Homo sapiens: one gene and its partners. The protein of the gene in region 1 interacts with the protein of each later gene in a biochemical or structural test. Each region holds a gene or a part of one and is shown in the gene's direction. Other genes may lie near its edges. The genes, in order: IKBKB, ROCK1 and MAP3K11.

What was found.
Region 2: of the proteins of IKBKB (region 1) and ROCK1, one has a biochemical effect on the other in vitro, tested with the Homo sapiens proteins (one study listed by BioGRID).
Region 3: of the proteins of IKBKB (region 1) and MAP3K11, one has a biochemical effect on the other in vitro, tested with the Homo sapiens proteins (one study listed by BioGRID).

Annotation. Positions count from the first base shown.
Region 1 is NC_000008.11:42,302,282-42,306,029, forward strand, and holds part of IKBKB (inhibitor of nuclear factor kappa-B kinase subunit beta), read left to right. Parts: intron 1-2,905; coding exon 2,906-2,994; intron 2,995-3,748.
Region 2 is NC_000018.10:20,951,091-20,954,838, reverse strand, and holds part of ROCK1 (rho-associated protein kinase 1), read left to right. Parts: coding exon 1-56; intron 57-1,053; coding exon 1,054-1,261; intron 1,262-3,451; coding exon 3,452-3,455; 3' UTR 3,456-3,748. UniProt on the Homo sapiens protein: Protein kinase which is a key regulator of the actin cytoskeleton and cell polarity.
Region 3 is NC_000011.10:65,612,536-65,616,283, reverse strand, and holds the start of MAP3K11 (mitogen-activated protein kinase kinase kinase 11), read left to right. Parts: upstream 1-2,062; 5' UTR 2,063-2,527; coding exon 2,528-3,266; intron 3,267-3,748. UniProt on the Homo sapiens protein: Activates the JUN N-terminal pathway. Required for serum-stimulated cell proliferation and for mitogen and cytokine activation of MAPK14 (p38), MAPK3 (ERK) and MAPK8 (JNK1) through phosphorylation and activation of MAP2K4/MKK4 and MAP2K7/MKK7.

The DNA of each region.
Region 1 (3,748 bases):
CACAATTGAGAACAAGATGAAATATAATTTTTTAGGCACATGGAAAGCAGCGAGTCTTTCACCTCATCTGGACATTAATTGGACCTAAGCTGATCTACTCTGTCACTTAGGAAGGAAATGAAAAGTAAGGAACAGTATGATATGTTGGAACCACATGGTCGAAGGCTGGACTTAAAAGAGCAGATGCAAGGAGAGATCTGGCACCACAGATAGAGCATCCCTAATCCCAAAGTCCAAAATCTAAAGGGCTGTAAAATCTGAAGGTTTTTGTACACTGACATGATGCCAGAAGTGGAAAATTCCACACTTAAGTACTTAACACATTGTTCCATGCACAAAATTATTAAGACTATTGTATAAAATTACCATCAGACTATAAAATCATTTATAAAAATTCAGTTGTTTCATATAAGGTATATATGAAACAAATGAATTTTGTGTTTAAGCTTGGGTTCATTAGGAATATGCCAGTATTCCAAAATCCAAAAAAAAAAAAACTGATCCCAAGCATTTTGGATAAGAGATACTCATCATGTATAGCTTAATGTTCTGAGCTGGAACTCCTTTAATAAGGTGGAAGTCAGTTGTTCAGCTCTCAGTTTGACTCTTAAATATGTTTTCAGCAAATGTTCAGCTTAGAGTCTTTGCAGAGAATGTTTGCTTACTCAGTTTCTGTGGAAGGCTTTTCCGTTACCCTGCACAGAGGGCCGTACCCATGACAGCAGATAGGATCGCTGCCTGGGCCTCAGGGGTCTTCCCCTCCCCGGCTTGCCGAGAGGGAGAGAGAGAGAGAGAGAGAGAGAGAGAGAATGAGAGAGAGAGAGAGAGAGAGAGAGAATGAGAGAGAGAGAGAGAGGAGAGAGAATGAGAGAGAGAATGAGAGAGAAACAGAGAGAATGAGAATGGTGGTGGCGGCGACGGCATACAGAGGGTTCATTGTTAAACCTCTGAATGTTACTGCTTTTGACTTTTTAAGTTTTAAACAAGAAACAGGTCATACCATTAACTATCCCTCTGAGTCAGAAAATATAGACCCAAGAGTTGCCTGTTCTAATGTGGCACTACCATAATTTGTTCTAACATTTCCTAATGACTGTCTGTTTCTAATTATTTCATTCAAGATATGCAGTAAGTATCCTTGGGCTACCAGTGAAGTGATACCATTTGTATCTCTTCTTCTGTGCTTTCTCACCACTTGACATTCTTTGCCCATTTTTCTTTTTCTTTTTCTTTTTTTTTTTAGGTAGAGTCTTACTCTGTCACCCAGGTTGGAGTGCAGTGGCCATGATCTCGGCTCACTGCAACCTCTGCCTCCTGGGTTCAAGCAATTCTCCTGCCTCAGCCTCCCGAGTAGCTGGGATTACAGGGGCATGCCACCACACCCAGCTAATTTTTTTGTATTTTTAGTAGATACAGGGTCTCACCATGTTGGCCAAGCTGGTCTTGAACTCCTGACCTCAGGTGATTCGCCCACGTTGGCCTCCCAAAGTGTTGGGATTACAGGCGTGAGCCACCGCGCCCAGCCCCATTTTTCTTCTGCATTGCTTTCTTATTGATTTATAAGAGCTTTTTATCTATTAGGTATCTTTACTCTTTGGTGTATGTGTTGTAGATATTGTTTCCCCACCTCTCTTATCTTTTGGCTTTGTTTATAGTATCTTTTGCCATAAACTTTGAAAACCTTTTAATGTTATTTGCACTGTTCTATTTATACCATGTGACTTTCCTGCATACACTGCTCTTTTTGCTACATGTATCCCATGGTGTTTTGGAGTTTTTGTTGCTAATGTGAATGGGATTTTTTTTCCTTTCCACTGCAACTGGATATAGCTAACATAGAGAAAAGCTATTGACTTGTGTATTCTTGTTCGTTTCCAGACAACTGGCTAAATTTTATCCAGTGTTTAGTCTGTTGAGCTCTCTAGGCTACATCTCCAAATCTATCTCCATCTCTAGTCATAGCATCTCCAAATAAAAATAATTTTATCTCATTTCAGTACTATTTATTTCATTTCTTTCTTTTATAGTGCAGTGAACTAGATGTCTGTCAAAGTTATTCACCCTCTCTTGAGGGTAAAATCATGTCCTTCTTGCCATCTGAGCTGCAGGCGGGTGCCTCCTCATGTGACATCATCACGTTGCCTCCTCACAGCAGAAGCTCTTGGTATCAAATGCTTCCGTAGCCAGTGTTGTGCAGTCTGCTTTCTTCCAACTAGATTCTGAGCTCTTTAAAGTTGGGGATCATGCCCCTTATTTTATGTCCCTCACAGAACCTCCCAGAGAACTGGGCATGTAGTAAGTCTGTGTAGGGCTGTCTGTATGTGTGGGAGGTGTCCCTGTTCTCCTCTTCTGCCTCCCCGCTGCTTCCTGGAAGCCAGTTCTGACCTCTTGGGACTGTCGATCATATGACCATAGGACTCTGTCCCCAAGGGCCCTTCCTCCTTGCCCACCCTATAGAATTTAGATTTTTGAGCCTCTAGACCAAAGAAACTTCCCTTCTCAAAACTTTATTGGCGTCAGCATCACCTGGAGAGTTTGTTAACACAGATCGTGGGGTCATCCCCAGAGACTTGAATCCAGAGGTCTCAGGTGGAGCCCGAGAATTTCACATTTTGAACAAGCTTGTTTGCTGCTGGTCCAGGTAGTATAGTTTGAGAAGCACTGCTCTAGGCTGCAGTTGGTGACCTCATGGATGCAAGGCAAAGAGTGCTTTGCGCAAGTAAGCCAGATTCCTGTGGAAGTTTAAGCCTCACGTAGCAGGGCCCCTGCCCTCCACCCTGAGGTATTGCGCTACAAGTCAGAGTATGTTTCAGGGGCATGCGGCATTTATCTTTTGCAGGATAGGAGATTCTGTCATGAAAAGCATTTTTTAGGCCTAAGAAAAACTCACCCCCCTCTTCCTCAGCCTCTGCGCTTAGATACCTTCATGAAAACAGAATCATCCATCGGGATCTAAAGCCAGAAAACATCGTCCTGCAGCAAGGAGAACAGAGGGTAAGTGACCTCCTGGGACTGGGAAAGCCTCAGGTGGGCGTGCCGGGAAGTGGCCTGGGAGGAAAGGAGCACACTCTGCATATTTGTGTGTATTTGCATTTCCTTGCCTGTGCTTTGATTCTCTGGGAATGCTGTTTGATTTGAAACAAAATTGAGCAAAAAAGTTGTTGCAGATTGAGGCAAGTTTAAATGGATTACATTGTTAGTTGCTCAAGTTGCAGGAATCTGATAAGGAAAATAATGTTTGCCTTCCTACCTCCACCCCTAGCCTCTGGGACTAGCGCTTCTTGGAAGTCGACTTTTTGTTTTCCATTTGCTTTAAGAGCCTCGCCTCTCGACTCTAAATGGAAACCAGTGGTCAGTTGGTTGTGGATGTGGCTGGGAAGAGGCACTGGGAGCTGGCCTCTGCTGCCAAGCCTGGTCCAGCCTATAGTTTCCCCAGAGCTCTTTGTGGCCTCCTCAGTGGCCACCCGGCTCAGACGTGGTGTTGACTGCCCCACAAGCTTGACATTGTGGTCTTTACCCACCCACTCTATGTGTTCAGCTGGGGTGGTGAGCACAGGCTCAGCTGAGTGGAATACAGTGAATGAGTTCTTAGATCACCTAATCCCTTCCCATACAGCTGCCCTTAGCACCTAGGCCTGGCCTGTGACTACCACAGGGCTCGCCCTTGTTCCAGTTCACCCTCACTCCTGTCAGTGGTGCTCAGATTTGAGAACTGAGGGCATTTACTGAGAAGAGGCTGGCCCGGTCC
Region 2 (3,748 bases), on another chromosome or scaffold:
TAAGTGCCACAGAGATCACTTAGATAAGAAAGAGGACTTAATTTGTCCATGTAAAGGTAAGGCATGGTAATTATTGTTACAACTTATAACAAATTTAATTTTAAGTCTCAATGAACTAACTTATGTGTAGTGATTTCTATACCAAGTTGAAAAGAGATTATAGAAAGTATTATTTTGACACTGGTGGGGCAATATGCAGCTATTTACAGATTTAGCTTTTAAAAATGTTTTTATTTATTTTTATTGATTGACTGATTGATTGAGATGGATTCTCACTCTGTCTCGCCCAGGCTGGAGTGCAGTGGCGTGATCTCAGCTCACTGCAGCCTCTGCCTCCCAGGTTCAAGTGATTCTCCTATCTCAGCCTCCTGAGTAGCTGGGACTATAGGCGTGTGCCACCACACCCGGCTAATTTTGTATTTTTAGTAGAGATGGAGTTTCACCATGTTGTCCAGGCTGGTTTCGAACTCCTGACATCAGGTGATCCACCCACCTCGGCCTCCCAAAGTGCTGGGATTACAGGTGTGAGCCATTGCACGCCCGGCCAACAGTGTTTTTAAAGAGAATCACCCCCTTGTAAACAAACAAAAACAAACAAACATGCTGCTAAGAAATTATTCCAAGTTGGAGAGAAGAGCAACAGGTGAGTTCCACTCTATTCCTCCCTTGAGTTTTTCCTCTTCTTTTTGTCTGGCATTCACTGCCTGGATCAGCATGCATGCTGTATCACAGAATATCTTCTAGTTTTACAGAGGTAGCTTGAGGGAAAGAATACAGACCATAGCTATTTTCAGATAAGAAGCTTATGTTCTTTAAATACATTTATTTGTTTTACATTTTGTTATATTTCTGATTTTACTTTATTAGTTTGACTAATTTTTTTTTTTAATTTCAGCCTTATTTAACTTAAGGAGAATGAGATATTGTTCATGCTTAATTAAGCATATTAAAACTTTTAAAACCTTAAGAACTTGAAAAACTATGCATTTGATAGGTTGGATTTTAAAAAACTATATGGCTTTAATTATGCTTTTTTTTTCCTCCTTAACATAGTAAGTTATGATGTAACATCAGCAAGAGATATGCTGCTGTTAGCATGTTCTCAGGATGAACAAAAAAAATGGGTAACTCATTTAGTAAAGAAAATCCCTAAGAATCCACCATCTGGTTTTGTTCGTGCTTCCCCTCGAACGCTTTCTACAAGATCCACTGCAAATCAGTCTTTCCGGAAAGTGGTCAAAAATACATCTGGAAAAACTAGGTAAGGATTTGAAATGCTAACGTTTTTAACAATGTGAAAATGATTGGATAACAGCTATTAAAATCAGAAATCTAATTGTGCTTTTCACCACAGAGGGCATCATTTTTAGGTATTTGTATGTGAATTGCAGTGACTTTATAAATTAGTTTAACTTATTCTTGTTAGAGTTTAATAATAATAATACATGCAATATTATATTTATTTAGTTCTGTGTCTAATTTTATTGTCATAAGTTGCTGTACATGGCATAGTTTTAGCCCTTAATGCTTTAACCAACTTAATTTTTTTAATGCAGAAATTCATATAAAACTTTTCATCATCTTTTCTGTTTTTTAACTGTGTTGGCATAGTTTTTCTACAAAAACCAAAATTGTTTTTCCCTTTTTTGTTAACTTCCCATACTATCCCAACATACAAAATTATTTGGTATTATCAGTGACTATGTTTTTTTAATTATTATACTTTAAGTTCTGGGATATATGTGCAGAACATGCAGGTTTGTTACATGGGTATACACGTGCCATGGTGGTTTGCTGCACCCATCAACCCATCATCTACATTAGGTATTTCTCCTAATGCTATCCCTGCCCTAGCCCCCCATCCCTCGACAGGCCCTGGTGCGTGACGTTCCCCTCCCTGTGTCCATGTTTTCTCATTGTTCAACTCCCACTTACGAGTGAGAACCTGTGGTGTTTGGTTTTCTATTCCTGTGTTAGTTTGCTGAGAATGATGGTTTCCAGCTTCATCCATGTCCCTTCAAAGGATGTGAACTCATGACCCCCTTTTTTTTTTTGTTTTTTGAGACAGAGTCTCACTCTGTCACCCAGGCTGGAGTGCAGTGGTGGCGCTATCTCAGCTCACTGCAACCTCCACCTCCCAAGTTCAAGCAATTCTCCAGCCTCAGCCTCCCAAGTAGCGGGGATTACAGACGCATGCCACGCCTGGCTAATTTTTGTATTTTTAGTAGAGAGAGGGTTTCATCATGTTGGCCAGGCTGATCTCAAACTCCTGACCTCAAATGATCTGCATGCCCCAGCCTCCCAAAGTGCTGGGATTACAGGCGTGAGCCACCATGCCTGGCTGTTTAACTATTTTTGATGGACTTTTTTCCAAAAATATGTTTTATGCCATGATAAACAATTATAAGGCATAACCATTCATTCATTCATTCATTCATTCATTCATTCATTCATTTTGAGACAGAGTCTCGCTCTGTCACCCAGGCCAGAGTGCAGTGGCGCAATCTCAGCTCACTGCAACCTCTGCCTCCCAGGTTCAAGCTATTCTCCCACCTCAGCCTCCTGAGTAGCTGGAATTACAGGCACATGCCACCACGGCCTGCTAATTTTTGTATTTTTAGTAGAGATGGAGTTTAACATGTTGGCCAGGCTGGTCTTGAACTCCTGACCTCAGGTGATGCACCTTCCTGGGCCTCCCAAAGTGCTGCGATTACAGGCATGAGCCACCGCACCAGGCAGTTAACTCTTTCTTGGAGAGAAATAATGAAATCTCATCTCATTAAGTTCTCATTTTACACATTAGTAAATAAGGCTCAGAGAAATTAAGCAGTTTGCTCAATCACACAGCCAATGGATTGGAAACCATTTCTGTCCAATTCTAAAGCCTATGTTGTCCAATTCCAAAGCCTCTATTCTACCACATACCACCTTCCCTAGAGTGTACTCCCTAGATTAATAGGGCCACTCGAATTAGAAGCTGAGACCTAACACTGATTTGCCTCGCTGCCAATGTCACCTACATCTTCCAAGCAGGCTTAAAGCCATCTTGAATTCATCCCTTTTGTTCATGCCCTATTGTCAGTAACCAGGCCTAATTCTTTGAAATGACTTATATCCTTTCCTTTCTCAGCCACCATACTATGCCAGGTATTATCACCTTACTGCTAACTTAATTCTGTAGAATGCTATGTCAGCCTTCTCCTGAGCATAGGTTGTAAACTGGATCTAAAATGATTTGAAATGAGATTATAGCTGAGTAAGAAAATGTGTAGAAACAAAGAGGAGAGAATACTAAGTATATTTTTCCTATTCCTTGTTTTCCAAATTTTGTGTAATTGTTAATTATTTTATGTAAAGATAATGTATATTTACCTTTCCTCCTAATGTTTGTTTCTTGTATTTTTAAACTGAGTGCATTTCTTAAATTAGTTTTTTCCCCCTCCCTCAACAGTTAACCATGTGACTGAGTGCCCTGTGGAATCGTGTGGGATGCTACCTGATAAACCAGGCTTCTTTAACCATGCAGAGCAGACAGGCTGTTTCTTTGACACAAATATCACAGGCTTCAGGGTTAAGATTGCTGTTTTTCTGTCCTTGCTTTGGCACAACACACTGAGGGTTTTTTTTATTGCGGGTTTGCCTACAGGTAGATTAGATTAATTATTACTATGTAATGCAAGTACAGTTGGGGGAAAGCTTAGGTAGATATATTTTTTTTAAAAGGTGCTGCCTTTTTGGATTTATAAGA
Region 3 (3,748 bases), on another chromosome or scaffold:
CTCCCGGGACCCTCATGGGGGCGGCCCCCGGCCCATGCCCCGTCTGGCGCCTGAGGGCCCCGGGGCCCGGCCTCACGCTCACGCCATGGCCTCCCCCAGCGGGGGAGGGGGGCTCGGCCGCGCGAGGGTGCGAGCAGGGGGCGGGGCCGGCCGGGACAGTCAGTGGTGCAAGGCCCGGACGCGGGGGTGGGGCTGCATCAGGGGCGGGGTCCGGGTCCCCACTCCTGGCCCAGAATTGCTCCGAGGGGCCGAGCCGGCAGGCAGGCGCGGGGCACGGGCCGGGTACCCGTCGGCGGCATCCAGAGGTGGTCGTGGGGTGGGTGCTCCCGGGGTGCAGGCGACAGCTCCCTAGTCTCCGGACCAGGGAGAACCCCAGGATCTGGGGTCCACTTTCGGGGTCGCAGGTCACTTGCTTGGGGCTCCGCGCTCGCCCGGCTTCTGCTGGTGCCGGCCTAAGGAGGAGGCCGGAAGAAGGAGCCGCGAACCGCCAGCCTGCAGTGGCGCATGCGCCCAACGATTCCAATTGGGACCCGGAAAAGGAAAACTTGACGGCATGAATGCGCAAGCGCAGAAAGGTGATGGCGCGGTAGGACGCGAGGGGTGCCCTTTGGGCGTGCGCAGACTCCAGGACTAAAGCAAGTTCGAGCGTAAAAGCGTTTGGGCGCATGCGTAGACCCAGGCGTTGCCAACCCAGGGTAGACGACTGGGCGGAACCAAAGAGACAGTTGAGTAGCCATTGGGTAACGGCAAAGTAATTGGCGCACAGCTCTTCCAATGAGTTACAGGAGGCGGGGAAAAGGTGGAGGCGTGGACTCCCCTAGTAGCAGCGAGAGTTCTGCACTACCGAAGCACGCCCCTCTCGGCCCGCCCCCTTTAATGCTGGACCTCGTACGTCACGACCGATTTCGCTCCCAGCGGCGTCTACTTCCGGGTCAGAGCTCAGACCTAGGGTGTAGAGAACAACCTTCCGTAACAGGCAGGAATAGTCGAAATAGGATAGCGTCGTCTTTCTTAAAGTGACAGGCTCAAAGCAATTGGGGCAGCCCTATCCAGAAGTTGTGAGGGCGACTCAGCTATTCTGAATCCAATCCTGGGCAAAGTTCTGGACAAGTCTCAGGTTTCTGCCAATGGGGAAGGGATATGAAGAAGCGGATTGTTTCCCAGGTGAGGAGAAGAAGAGAGCCTTAGGCAATCCACTCCAAGAGCTTGAGGTGCAGCCAGTTCCGTCTGTCCTCCAGTCTTCCCCACCCCATCCAACTAGCTCTACGAGGCAGAGCTTTCTCGTCCTCATATCATATATGAAAAGAATGGCCGGGCGCGGTGGCTCACGCCTGTAATCCCAACACTTTGGGAGGCCGAGGCGGGAGGATCACGAGGTCAGGGGTTTGAGACCAGCATGGCCAACATGGTGAAACCCGTCTCCACTAAAAATACAAAAATTAGCCGGCCGTGGTGCCACGCGCCGGTAGTCCCAGCTACTCGGGAGGCTGAGGCAGGAGAATCTCTTGAACCCGGGAGGCGGAGGTTGCAGTGAGCTTAGACTGCGCCATTGCATACCAGCCTGGGCGACAGAGCAAGACTCCGTCTCAAAAGAAGAAAAAAGAAAGAAAATAATGAGGCTCAGAATCGATGGATCGCACAGTCCCACAACTTCGCAGCCAAGACCAGACTCGGGTTCACCCCCTTCCCAAGTGTGGTTCTGTAACCCCGTTTTGCTGCCGCCGATGCGGATGCAGAGGGCAGAGATGGCCCATCCTTAGCAGAGACCAACCTCCACCCTAGGCAGCAGAGCACGCAGCTGGGGGCTTTTCTTTCTAGATCTCAAAAGCCTGCTGTGATGGGGGATCTGGTTCTGCCCTTTCCCTCTCTGCCTCTCCTGGCCCGCCTACCCGGGAACTCCCCGCCTGGAGCCTCTGGGAGGGGAGCGGTGCAGGCCGCCCGCGTCATCTGATGCTGTTTCCTGCAGGAGGGAGAAGAGCGGAAAAAAGTGAAACTCCACCCTCCACCTCTGCCTCCCGCCCCCGGGGCCAAAGTACAAAGGGAGGAGGAAGAAGGGAGCGGGGTCGGAGCCGTCGGGGCCAAAGGAGACGGGGCCAGGAACAGGCAGTCTCGGCCCAACTGCGGACGCTCCCTCCACCCCCTGCGCAAAAAGACCCAACCGGAGTTGAGGCGCTGCCCCTGAAGGCCCCACCTTACACTTGGCGGGGGCCGGAGCCAGGCTCCCAGGACTGCTCCAGAACCGAGGGAAGCTCGGGTCCCTCCAAGCTAGCCATGGTGAGGCGCCGGAGGCCCCGGGGCCCCACCCCCCCGGCCTGACCACACTGCCCTGGGTGCCCTCCTCCAGAAGCCCGAGATGCGGGGGGCCGGGAGACAACACTCCTGGCTCCCCAGAGAGGCGTGGGTCTGGGGCTGAGGGCCAGGGCCCGGATGCCCAGGTTCCGGGACTAGGGCCTTGGCAGCCAGCGGGGGTGGGGACCACGGGCACCCAGAGAAGGTCCTCCACACATCCCAGCGCCGGCTCCCGGCCATGGAGCCCTTGAAGAGCCTCTTCCTCAAGAGCCCTCTAGGGTCATGGAATGGCAGTGGCAGCGGGGGTGGTGGGGGCGGTGGAGGAGGCCGGCCTGAGGGGTCTCCAAAGGCAGCGGGTTATGCCAACCCGGTGTGGACAGCCCTGTTCGACTACGAGCCCAGTGGGCAGGATGAGCTGGCCCTGAGGAAGGGTGACCGTGTGGAGGTGCTGTCCCGGGACGCAGCCATCTCAGGAGACGAGGGCTGGTGGGCGGGCCAGGTGGGTGGCCAGGTGGGCATCTTCCCGTCCAACTATGTGTCTCGGGGTGGCGGCCCGCCCCCCTGCGAGGTGGCCAGCTTCCAGGAGCTGCGGCTGGAGGAGGTGATCGGCATTGGAGGCTTTGGCAAGGTGTACAGGGGCAGCTGGCGAGGTGAGCTGGTGGCTGTGAAGGCAGCTCGCCAGGACCCCGATGAGGACATCAGTGTGACAGCCGAGAGCGTTCGCCAGGAGGCCCGGCTCTTCGCCATGCTGGCACACCCCAACATCATTGCCCTCAAGGCTGTGTGCCTGGAGGAGCCCAACCTGTGCCTGGTGATGGAGTATGCAGCCGGTGGGCCCCTCAGCCGAGCTCTGGCCGGGCGGCGCGTGCCTCCCCATGTGCTGGTCAACTGGGCTGTGCAGATTGCCCGTGGGATGCACTACCTGCACTGCGAGGCCCTGGTGCCCGTCATCCACCGTGATCTCAAGTCCAACAACAGTGAGTTTCTGGGGGCATGGTTGGGGGTGGCATGGCTCTGGTACACACCTGCTCCCAACCTTCCACTGAGCCTAGCTTAGGGTCTACTGCAGGTAGGAGCTCCCACCCTAGGGGGTCCCAGCTGACCAGGGGTGCCCATGGGCTCAAGCTAGCCCCCAAACAGAGCCCCAGGCACCCAGCAGAGTCTTCCTGCGCCAGCTTCAGAAGTCCTTGACCCCAGCCTGCAGCTGCGGTTTGGACAAGTTAAGAAATTGGTATCTCTCAGGTGGGCCATAAGCATCCTGCCCAGCCATGGCTCCCACCTCAAGGAAGTCCTCTGGAAGCTCGTGCTCCTCATCTTCTCCTCCCCTAAATTCATGTTCGTGGAGTTGGTGCTCTGTCCTCCCCTCCCGTCGTCATGGGCAGCTCCTCCAGAACAGATATCTCAGAGAGGGAAGCCCTCCTTGGCAGTCAAGGCTAAGGCCAGGGCTGGAATTCTGGCC